Homo sapiens: one gene and its partners. The protein of the gene in region 2 purifies or fractionates together with the protein of the main gene of each other region. This does not show direct contact. Each region holds a gene or a part of one and is shown on either strand. Other genes may lie near its edges.

Evidence for each region.
Region 1: the proteins of RNASE3 (region 2) and RNH1 purify together in Homo sapiens (affinity purification with mass spectrometry; 2 studies listed by BioGRID and IntAct, with this or other methods). This does not show direct contact.
Region 3: the proteins of RNASE3 (region 2) and POTEI purify together in Homo sapiens (affinity purification with mass spectrometry; 2 studies listed by BioGRID and IntAct, with this or other methods). This does not show direct contact.

Annotation. Positions count from the first base shown.
Region 1 is NC_000011.10:493,901-497,279, reverse strand, and holds the end of RNH1 (ribonuclease inhibitor), read left to right. Parts: intron 1-2,226; coding exon 2,227-2,397; intron 2,398-2,501; coding exon 2,502-2,589; 3' UTR 2,590-2,765; downstream 2,766-3,379. UniProt on the Homo sapiens protein: Ribonuclease inhibitor which inhibits RNASE1, RNASE2 and angiogenin (ANG). May play a role in redox homeostasis. Required to inhibit the cytotoxic tRNA ribonuclease activity of ANG in the cytoplasm in absence of stress.
Region 2 is NC_000014.9:20,889,077-20,892,827, forward strand, and holds RNASE3 (eosinophil cationic protein precursor), read left to right. Parts: upstream 1-2,308; 5' UTR 2,309-2,375; intron 2,376-2,605; 5' UTR 2,606-2,610; coding exon 2,611-3,093; 3' UTR 3,094-3,272; downstream 3,273-3,751.
Region 3 is NC_000002.12:130,507,164-130,510,914, reverse strand, and holds the start of POTEI (POTE ankyrin domain family member I), read left to right. Parts: upstream 1-1,586; 5' UTR 1,587-1,679; coding exon 1,680-2,200; intron 2,201-3,751.

The DNA of each region.
Region 1 (3,379 bases), on a different chromosome or scaffold from region 2:
CGTGTGTGAGCACATGGGCGAGAGTGAGCATGAGTGTCCGTGTGTGAGCACATGGGCGAGAGTACGTGAGCACATGGGTGAGAGTGAGCACGAGTGTCCGTGTGTGAGCACATGGGTGAGAGTGAGCATGAGTGTCCATGTGAGTGTGAGCACATGGGCGAGTGAGCACGTGAGTGTGGCACATGGGCGAGAGTGAGCACGAGTGTCCATGTGAGTGTGAGCACATGGGCGAGAGTGAGGGTGCATGTTCATGTACTGGGAAAGGCGGGCTGGCGGCACCACTCTGGCTTAGTTCTCATTTTAACTCTGAAAGTCAGAGGTCATGTTTCATGAAGCCTGAGAGCTTCACGGAGCTCCAGCCTACCTGGCCACCCTGTGGTCCATCTTCCTGGAAGCCCCGCCCACCTTTCTCCCTTGCGGGAACCCCGCCTGTGTCAGGATGTTTTTCCAGATTTGTTTTCTTTGTTAAAGCACGTTCTTTTGCAGCTTTCTAAGAAAAGGTTTTGCAGGAGGTAATTTTTGGGGTCTTGTGCCCCTGTTCTGTCCTTGGATCATTTAGCCGGGTATAGCATGCACCATTATGCCCGGCTAATTTTATTTTGTTTGTTTTTTTGAGAGAGTCTTGCTCTGTCGCCCAGGCTGGAGTGCAGTGGTGCGATCTTGGCTCACTGCAAGCTCCGCCTCCCAAGTTCATGCCATTCTCCTGTCTCAACCTCCCGAGTAGCTGGGACCACAGGCGCCCGTCACCACACCAGGCTAATTTTTTGTACTTTTAGTAGAGATGGGGTTTCACCGTGTTAGCCAGTATGGTCTTGATATCCTGACCTCGTGATCCGCCTGCCTCGGCCTCCTAAATTGCTGGGATTACAGGCGTGAGCCACCACGCCTGGCCTAATTTTTGTATTTTTAGTAGAGATGGGGTTTCACCATGTTGGGCAGGCTGGTCTTGAACTATTGACCTCAAGTGATGAGCCTGCCTCAGCCTCCCAAAGTGCTGCGATTACAGGCGTGAGCCACTGTGACCTTGTGTGCACGATCTGCTTTTTCTCGTTGGCAGCTTTTCAAGCTCTCTTTGTTCACTGTGTTAGGGGTTCCATGTGCTTGGCCTTGATGGGGGTCTTGGTTCTTTGTGCTGGATACTTGGTTCTACTAAGAAAATATACCTTTGGTGATTTTTTTCTCTCTCCTTTCTTATGTTTCTTTTTTGGTGTGCCCATGAGCCTGTCCTGATGTCTTGTGGAGTGACCCTCTAATTATGTTCTCCAAATTTTCTTTTCGATGTTTTGTTTTATTTTTGGGAGATGTTCTCATTTACCAGCCAGTCTACTGAATTTCCACCCTCAGTGTTTTGTCTTTTGTTTGCTGTTTCCCGTGTGCCTCTCGCCAGGGGCTTTCCGTGGGTGGCTGGTCATCCTGGGCTGGGCACCAGGTGCAGAGTGAGGCCCGGGAGCCCTGGACAGTGAGCCCTGCAGGCCGAGTCATGGCTGCGTTTCTCGAGGGCTTCCTCCTGATGGGGGATTTTCAGTTCCCTGCCAGGGGACACCATCCTGGCTGCCAGGACCTTGTGGGTGTTCCAGATGTGGAGAGGAACCTTGGGTCCTGGTCACTGCAGACTTGTTCCCCCTGAGCCACTCACAGGGTGGGGGTCCTGCAGCTTCCCTGGCCCCCACCTTGGAGAGGTCCAGTGCAACTCCTTGGCCCTGCTGTCCGGCCTGTGGCGGCTCCACCCCGGGAAGTGGGTGTTGGGTCTTCTCTATCCCATCCTCTTTTGTCTGACCCGTTCTCTTGTCTCTCTCTGGAGCCTAAAGTCTGTTGTCCACTCTGTTCTTGTCTTGGTACCCTCCATACCCTCGTTTCCCCACAGCTGCTCCTCAGTCTCTGGCTGGCTTCTCCTTTGAAGCCCACGCAGCCAGACGGTGTCGAGGTGACAAGGGGGTGGGTGTGGCTCTCTGGGTGGACGACATCTCTCTCCTGTCCTTTCTCCTCCCTGCAGAAGATCTCAGGCGAGTGAGGCTGCTTGTGCCTCGCTTGTCTGTGCCTTCCTTGTCCGTGGTGGGGAACCTGCCCAGGGCCACAGGGACGGTGAGCCTTGGGGACGGCCCCACCTGAGGGTCCTGAGTTGCCGAGCACAGGTGTCCGTCGCGCCCCCCAGGCCCAGGCCTGCTCTGCCGGTCAGTGCGGTGCCAGGCACGCCCGGCACCCTGACCCCCGCCCTGCTTCACCCAGGTTGGCCGACTGCGATGTGAGTGACAGCAGCTGCAGCAGCCTCGCCGCAACCCTGTTGGCCAACCACAGCCTGCGTGAGCTGGACCTCAGCAACAACTGCCTGGGGGACGCCGGCATCCTGCAGCTGGTGGAGAGCGTCCGGCAGCCGGGCTGCCTCCTGGAGCAGCTGGTGTATGTGCACGCGCTGGGCGGGTGGTGCGGCCAGGGCTGCCCAGGGAGGAAGGCGGGGGTGGGGGAGGACACGGGCCCATGCCTCCCTTCTGGCCTGTGTGCAGCCTGTACGACATTTACTGGTCTGAGGAGATGGAGGACCGGCTGCAGGCCCTGGAGAAGGACAAGCCATCCCTGAGGGTCATCTCCTGAGGCTCTTCCTGCTGCTGCTCTCCCTGGACGACCGGCCTCGAGGCAACCCTGGGGCCCACCAGCCCCTGCCATGCTCTCACCCTGCATATCCTAGGTTTGAAGAGAAACGCTCAGATCCGCTTATTTCTGCCAGTATATTTTGGACACTTTATAATCATTAAAGCACTTTCTTGGCAGGAGAGGCTCTTGTCCTTCCTGGGGTCCTTGCGAGGCGCTGGCATTGGAGACGACACCACCCCACTTGGCTTCTCTCCCTGCCTAAGGGACCCCGCACCAGGGAAGCAGCCCAAGGCCCTGGCTGTGCTCAGCTGGGTCCCCTGAGCTGCACCCACCCACACTGGGGAGCACAGGGCAGGCCCTGCCCAGGGTGGAGGGATGCCCCTTGGCTCTGTTGCCCGTGCAGGGTGACGCCTGCTGGGAGCTGCCTGCAGGCCCAGCTGCTCCCGCAGCTTCCACCCCGGAGCCTCAGGAGCCCCCAGCACTGCCCTGACTGCCCCCCAGCCCAGCCCAGCCCAGCCCAGCCCAGCCCAGCCCAGCCCAGCGCGGCCCAGCGCGGCCCGGGTTCCTGCCCGGAGCCCAGTGCTCGCCCCAGCTCTGTGTGGGATGATGGGGCAGCCCATCTTGCCCACGGGTGGACAGCTGACCAAGGTGGGCCAGCCCGGGGTGCCCTGCCCTGCCAAGCCAAGAGGGGGACGCTCACCAGCTTTCAAAGGTCCGATGCTGAGTCAGCAACTACAAGTTCATTGCAAAGAAGCTGCCTGGCAATCCCCCTCTTTTGGACAGGGTCTCT
Region 2 (3,751 bases):
CACTTTGGAAGGCCGAGGTGGGCGCATTACCTGAGGTCAGGAGTTTGAGACCAGCCTGGCCAACATGGTGAAACCCCGTCTCTACTAAAAATACAAAAATTAGGCGGGCATTGTGTCGAGCGCCTGTAATCCCAGCTACTCAGGAGGCTGAGGCAGGAGAATCACTTGAACTTGGGAGGCGGAGGTGGAGGTTGCAGTGAGATCACGCCACTGCAGTCCAGCCTGGGTGACAAGAGCAAGACTCCGTCTCAAAAAAAAACAAAAAACAAAAAACTCCACAATTTTAAAGGATGAATATGGTTGCAAATTGGGCAGGTTATGGTCTGCTTAAGACACTTCAATAAGTCTGATATGTCATAAGCACAGATGTCTTCAGGAGCCAGGCAGGTGTCATCACTGAACAGATAGGATAAAAGTCAGGAGGGAGAGTGGAGTCAGAGAACAGCCCTGAGCTAGAGCCCCTTCCACAGACGCAGCTGTTACTCAGCTCTAATTGATACAACACCAATGGTGCACCAACCACCATCATGTGATTTTTAAAGATAAGACAGTAATGAAAACTTTTAGTGAACTATTCCAATGTCAAACTTTATCTTCCAAACCAAACATCATAAATAGCACTGTGTATGCTGAAAAGAAGCACTGTTTAGCCAAGTACCTGCCCTGGGGCTGCAGTCTATGTCTTTTGCCTCATACTATAGACACTTAAGTGCAAATGTTTCTAGCCAGTGTGGCTGTCAGCATCACAGAGGGGATACTCTACGTATCATTCACCTTTACATTCTCATCACCTACAAAAATGATCTCCACACAATATACATGAAAAAATAAACTTGCCTCATGATAAAGCTGCTAATGAATGTCGGCCAGAACAGGACTTCAAGGCAGAGCAATATTAGCTGCGCATTGAGTCCTCACCAGGTCACCATTGTGTCCACATTTACCTAAGGACCCCAGTGATAAAATTATTGCATTTCTAAATGACAGGAAAATTGGACGGTAGTAAAAATTAGGCAGATTAACTGTTGGAAGGTATATTATATCATTTAAGGGTCTACTTTCCATTTTCTAATCTCAAAGCTAGACCAGATTTAACATCTGTTAGTACCCAGGCCTTACCTTTGCAATTCACTTCTCACCTCTGTACAATTTCCCCACATCATCCCCTGTGCCCAGAATGCTCATCTCTTCTCTAAATCCCCTGAAAATCCCCTGCTTATCCTTTAGGACCTGCTGAAATAAACTTTTTTTTGAAGTTTTCCTTATTTCTCAAGCCAAGTGATTTCCTTCACCAGCAGTGTCCCTATGACACCATGTTCACACAAATGCTATTACCTCTATCACACTGTAATACAATTATATGTCTACAAGTACTTTCCTGTGTTTCTCTGAGGGCCAAGAATAAATGTATGCTTTGTGTATCAAACTGTACACTTGACCTCTATACTTTCAGGAATACAGTGCTCTGTCCTTAAATGTTCATTTGTAAATACAGAACCATATTCTTGTTAATATCACAAAATGAAACTTACCAGGAAGATGAATGACAACCCCAGAACACACTGTTTTGTAGAAAATACCATAGGCTGAAAAGATCACAGGAATACCGAGTGCTAGGTTGGAATCTTTCATGACACCAAATGTTCATTCATCCTCTGCCAGATTTTACAACTGTCCTCGGTGTGTTTTTAGGTTATGTAACTTTACACAAAGTGGAATCAATAATCAGGGCAAGACTTAAGAGAAAGTGGATCCAATGCAAGAGGAGTAAAGAAAAAAATTCCTCAATTGTATGGAGCAGATTGTTTTAATTATCTACAGAATCTTGTGCCCCAAGAAATTAATAGCTCAAGTTTCCAGCAAGAGTGGTGGATGAGATGGAGAGCATTTATGTGAGAGAGAACCAAGGATATTACTAAAAATGGAAGGGAAGCTGGGTTTCTCCTGGGCAAACAGCCCTCTGTGGCTCTATTTCTCCTAACTACTATGCCTGCCTTCGTGTCATTTAGTCATTTAGGGGCCTGCCAGAGGACAGTTATAAAATCTGTGGTCATTCTGCCGGCAGCGTATAGTTTTCACCCAGAGTCCAGATCCCACCGGCAAAACTCTGTCTAACACAGGATGACTTGGAATTAGAGTCCGTATAGCAGAAAGAGCAGCAGGGCTGTCCTTGGGTATCCGTTGCTCAGCCAAGTCATCAAATAAAAAGGATGATTGCACAAGTGGACCATGTGTCAATCTGTGGGTTTCTGCATGGCCAGACCCACCAAGGGAAGCTTTATTTAAACAGTTCCAAGTAGGGGAGACCAGCTGCCCCTGAACCCCAGAACAACCAGCTGGATCAGTTCTCACAGGAGCCACAGCTCAGAGACTGGGTAAGTCAACAATCCCCAGAGCTGGGACAGGAGGGGCAGCGACAGGGCAGCACCTGAGGGAGAGGTGAGCTGAAGTTAGTGCTTAGGAGATGTGGCACACTTTGGGGACAGGAAGAAAAGGAAATGCGACCCCAGAGTGGCAGCAGAGGGGCCTGTGGGTTGAGACACTATAGAGTGTGTCATAACCGAGACCGGATCGGGGAGTAGTTACTTCTCTTCTTTTCTTACAGGAAACATGGTTCCAAAACTGTTCACTTCCCAAATTTGTCTGCTTCTTCTGTTGGGGCTTATGGGTGTGGAGGGCTCACTCCATGCCAGACCCCCACAGTTTACGAGGGCTCAGTGGTTTGCCATCCAGCACATCAGTCTGAACCCCCCTCGATGCACCATTGCAATGCGGGCAATTAACAATTATCGATGGCGTTGCAAAAACCAAAATACTTTTCTTCGTACAACTTTTGCTAATGTAGTTAATGTTTGTGGTAACCAAAGTATACGCTGCCCTCATAACAGAACTCTCAACAATTGTCATCGGAGTAGATTCCGGGTGCCTTTACTCCACTGTGACCTCATAAATCCAGGTGCACAGAATATTTCAAACTGCACGTATGCAGACAGACCAGGAAGGAGGTTCTATGTAGTTGCATGTGACAACAGAGATCCACGGGATTCTCCACGGTATCCTGTGGTTCCAGTTCACCTGGATACCACCATCTAAGCTCCTGTATCAGCAGTCCTCATCATCACTCATCTGCCAAGCTCCTCAATCATAGCCAAGATCCCATCCCTCCATGTACTCTGGGTATCAGCAACTGTCCTCATCAGTCTCCATACCCCTTCAGCTTTCCTGAGCTGAAGTCCCTTGTGAACCCTGCAATAAACTGCTTTGCAAATTCATCTGGAAGTGTCTGTGTGTCTTCCTCGGCCGCTCTGCTGTCATTTAGTGACAATCTGCTCTAGAGATTTGGGTTTATCATGAATCTCTCCCCCTCAATATCTGACCAAATTCCTTAATTCCCCCATCATCCTTCATGTGATACCTGATTCCAGGCCTGCCTTAAAAAAAAATCCAATTGAGTCAACTTAGCATTGGTCTCCCTAGCCTTAATATCTCCTCTAAGCAATTTTCCATCCACTGACTCCTCCCCCAACACCAACCTATAACTTGTGTATAGATCTCCACTTGTTTTAGTTGTATTCCAGAATTGAGCCCAATTTGATATTGAGGTCCCATTTGATGCTTTATGGTCCGACTATGGTTTTTATTGACATGATTTCTATCCCAAGAAAAAAAGAGCTGCAGTGAATCAGCTGAAAATGCACGTGCTTCATTATGATTTATGAATGATAAATTTTGATAGAATTGAACGTTATGA
Region 3 (3,751 bases), on a different chromosome or scaffold from region 2:
ATTTATTTATTTATGAGATGGACTTTTGCTCTTGTTGCCCAGGCTGGAGTGCAATGGCAGTATCTTGGCTCACCGCAACCTCCGCCTCTCGGGATCAAGCGATTCTCCTGCCTCAGCCTCCCAAGTAGCTGGGATTACAGGCGTGCACCACCACGCCTGGCTAATTTTGTATTTTTAGTAGAGACAAGGTTTCTCCATGTTGGTCAGGCTGGTCTCGAACTCCCGACCTCAGGTGATCCACCTGCCTCGGTCTCCCAAAGTGCTGGGATTACAGGCATGAGCCACTGCACCCAGCCAGCCTGCAGATTTATTTTAATGAGAAAATCAAAGCAAAAGCAGGGGCATAAGTGGAGCATATGGATGGGACAGAGAACGTTGGAGGCTTTAGCAGAGAGAGGAAAGGGCAGGAAGGAGTCATCCACAGGAGGGGAGAGTACTGTCCTGTGACTGCTCCTCCAAGCCCCCTCTTGCCGGCGTGGACACAGCGGTCTGCACCTTGACCCTATTGCATGCCAGTGGAGCAGAGCCCCCCAGGCCAGAAGCCCTATAGCTGTTGGCCCTGGCTTGGACACCGGGCAGGGGGCACCGGGGCAGGAGCTGGCCGCGATCCTGTGGCCCCAAATGCCCCCTCGCTGATGGCCTCGTGTTCTGGGTGCAGAGCAAAGAGGACCAGGTGTCAAAGGCACCTCAGGCAGGCGCTGGGCTCAGTGGGCATCTTGTGCTCCGGGATTTTGAGGCCATTTGCAGCCAGCTCCTCCAGCCCCAGCTCCGAGCTGCAGACGCTGCCACGCACAACAGCACCGCCAGGAGTGTCCTGGGGGCTTTCTTCAGAGGAGGCTGTCAGCATCCTCAAGTTCCAGCCGCTTAGCCCCAGTCCTGCTTCAAGAGGCTTTTTTTTCACCAGAGGCTTCTCAATGGCCTGAAAGCTCAGCTGAGTCCCATGAAGTTTGCCAGGAACATAAGGCTGTCGGTGACATTCGTGGCGCCAAGATTTAAACACGCGGTTGCACGCATTGGCCACTGTCTGTGCCACATGCACTGACGCCACCTGAGATGCACACGCTGCACGCCGCACGCGCACGCCGCACGCGCACGCGGCAGCGGCTTGGCTGGCTTGTAATGGCTTGCACGCGCACGCCACACGCGCATAGCGGTTTGGCTGGCCTGTAACGGCTTGCACGCGCACGCCGCACGCGCGTAATGGCTTGGCTGGCCTGTAACGGCTTGCACGCGCATGCTGCACGCGGGTAACTGCTTGGCTGGCCTGTAGCGGCTTGGCTTGGCTTTGCGTTCTTTGCTTGGCTTGGTGTTGGTCGCTTGGCCTGGTGTTCCTCCTTGGATTGACGTTTCCTCCTTGGATTGGCGTTTCCTCTCTCGCGTTCCCTTGCTAGGCTTGACCTTTTCTCTGCTGGGTTTGGCATTCCCTTGGGTGGGCTGGGTGTTTTCTTGGGGGGGGGGGTTGGCCCTTCCTCGGGTGGGCGTGGGCTTTCCCCGGGTGGGTGTGGGTTTTCCCTGGGTGGGGTGGGTTGGGCTTACCTGCTGGGGTTGGCAGGTTTTGGCTGGGATTGACTTTTCTCTTCAAACAGATTGGAAACCCGGAGTTACCTGCTAGTTGGTGAAACTGGTTGGTAGACGTGATCTGCTCGCTACTACCGGCCTCCCCAGGCTGTTAAAAGCAGATGGTAGCTGAGGTTGATTCAATGCCGGCTGCCTCTTCTGTGAAGAAGCCATTTGTTCTCAGGAGCAAGATGGGCAAGTGGTGCCGCCACTGCTTCCCCTGCTGCAGGGGGAGCGGCAAGAGCAACGTGGGCACTTCTGGAGACCAGGACGACTCCACTATGAAGACACTCAGGAGCAAGATGGGCAAGTGGTGCTGCCACTGCTTCCCCTGCTGCAGGGGGAGTGGCAAGAGCAACGTGGGCACTTCTGGAGACCACGACGACTCCGCTATGAAGACGCTCAGGAGCAAGATGGGCAAGTGGTGCTGCCACTGCTTCCCCTGCTGCAGGGGGAGCGGCAAGAGCAACGTGGGTGCTTGGGGAGACTACGACGACAGCGCCTTCGTGGAGCCGAGATACCACGTCCGTCGAGAAGATCTGGACAAGCTCCACAGAGCTGCCTGGTGGGGTAAAGTCGCCAGAAAGGATCTGATCGTCATGCTCAGGGACACTGACGTGAACAAGCAGGACAAGCAAAAGAGGTAACCAGGCCTGGGCTGGGAGGAGGTGGGAGGTCGGGGGATGATGGGGACATACCCTCCTGGCGGGGGAGGAGGGGGACCTGGCTTTCTCACCTCCGCAGGCCTCACAGCACCCTGGTTGTGGAAACCTCAGAGAGGTCAGGGCACAGGCCCCTTTATGAACAGCAACACACACAAAAAAAACTTTAGCTGATTTCCAATCAAATTATAATTTCCCTCGTAGAACACTAATAGACTGTTTTAAAGTGATTTAACTTGCAAAATTAATTAAGTCAATGCAGCAGATTATTTTTAATCTACAGATTTTAAAACAATGTTCTATACATTATAGAAAAGTGTATATTGAGAACTAAGAATGAAGCCCCATAACACATCAACTTCAGGGCTAAATATTCTTCAAATAAAATCCAGTATGGATTTTATATCAATGTACCCTATGTAAATACGTTCTTTACTGAGGAACCTTAGAAGGAAACTGAAATGGGAAGATGGTTCCTGTGCTTGAATAGGAAGATTGAATTTTCTTAAGATGTGAGCTTTTTGGCTGGGCGCGGTGGCTCATGCCTGTAATCCCAGCACTTTGGGGAGGCGGGCGGATCACGAGGTCAGGAGATCGAGACCATCCTGGCTAACACGGTGAAACCCTGTCTCTACTAAAAATTATAAAAAAAATTAGCCGGGCACGGTGGCAGGTGCCTGTAGTCCCAGCTACTCAGGAGGCTGAGGCAGGAGAATGGCGTGAACTCGGGAGGCGGAGCTTGCAGTGAGCCAAGATAGTGCCACCGCACTCCAGCCTGGGAGACAGAGCGAGATTCCGTCTCAAAAAAAAAAAAAAAAAAAAAGATGTGAGCTTTTTCTATTTATCACTTTTACATAAGCCAAATAAAAATAGCAAAGTTTTAGCGTTTTTAAATTACACATGCTGTCTTTTATTATTGTGATAAATTAATTTTTTGTAACAGAATGGAAAAAGGCTTGCTTTTCCAGATATCAAAATGTGCATGTGTTATTTATTTCCACAAATTGTTTACTAACAGCTGAAAAGACATCAATGAATAGAACAGAATAGGAAATTTAGAAATACCCAAATATATGTAAGAATTTAGCACTTGATAATGGTGATGTTTTGTATTATTTAAAAAAGATGGATTGTTCATAATTCATTTTTGGAGAAAACTAGCTAGATTTTTATGTCACAAAAATAAGAGTATAGATTAAAAATTTTAAACATACAAAAGGAGAAACATACCAGAAAAAATATAAATGCCTATTTATATACGCAGATATATATATATATACATATATATACACATATATACATATATATACATATGTATATATACATATATATGTGTGTGTATATATATACATATATATGTGTGTGTGTGTGTGTGTGTATATATATATATATATATATATATATATATATATATATATATATCCTTTTTTTTTTGGTGGAGTCTCACTCTGTAGCCCAAGCTGGAGTGCAGTGGTGTGATCTCGGCTCACTGCAACCTCTGCCTCCTAGGTTCAAGCAATTCTCTGCTTCAG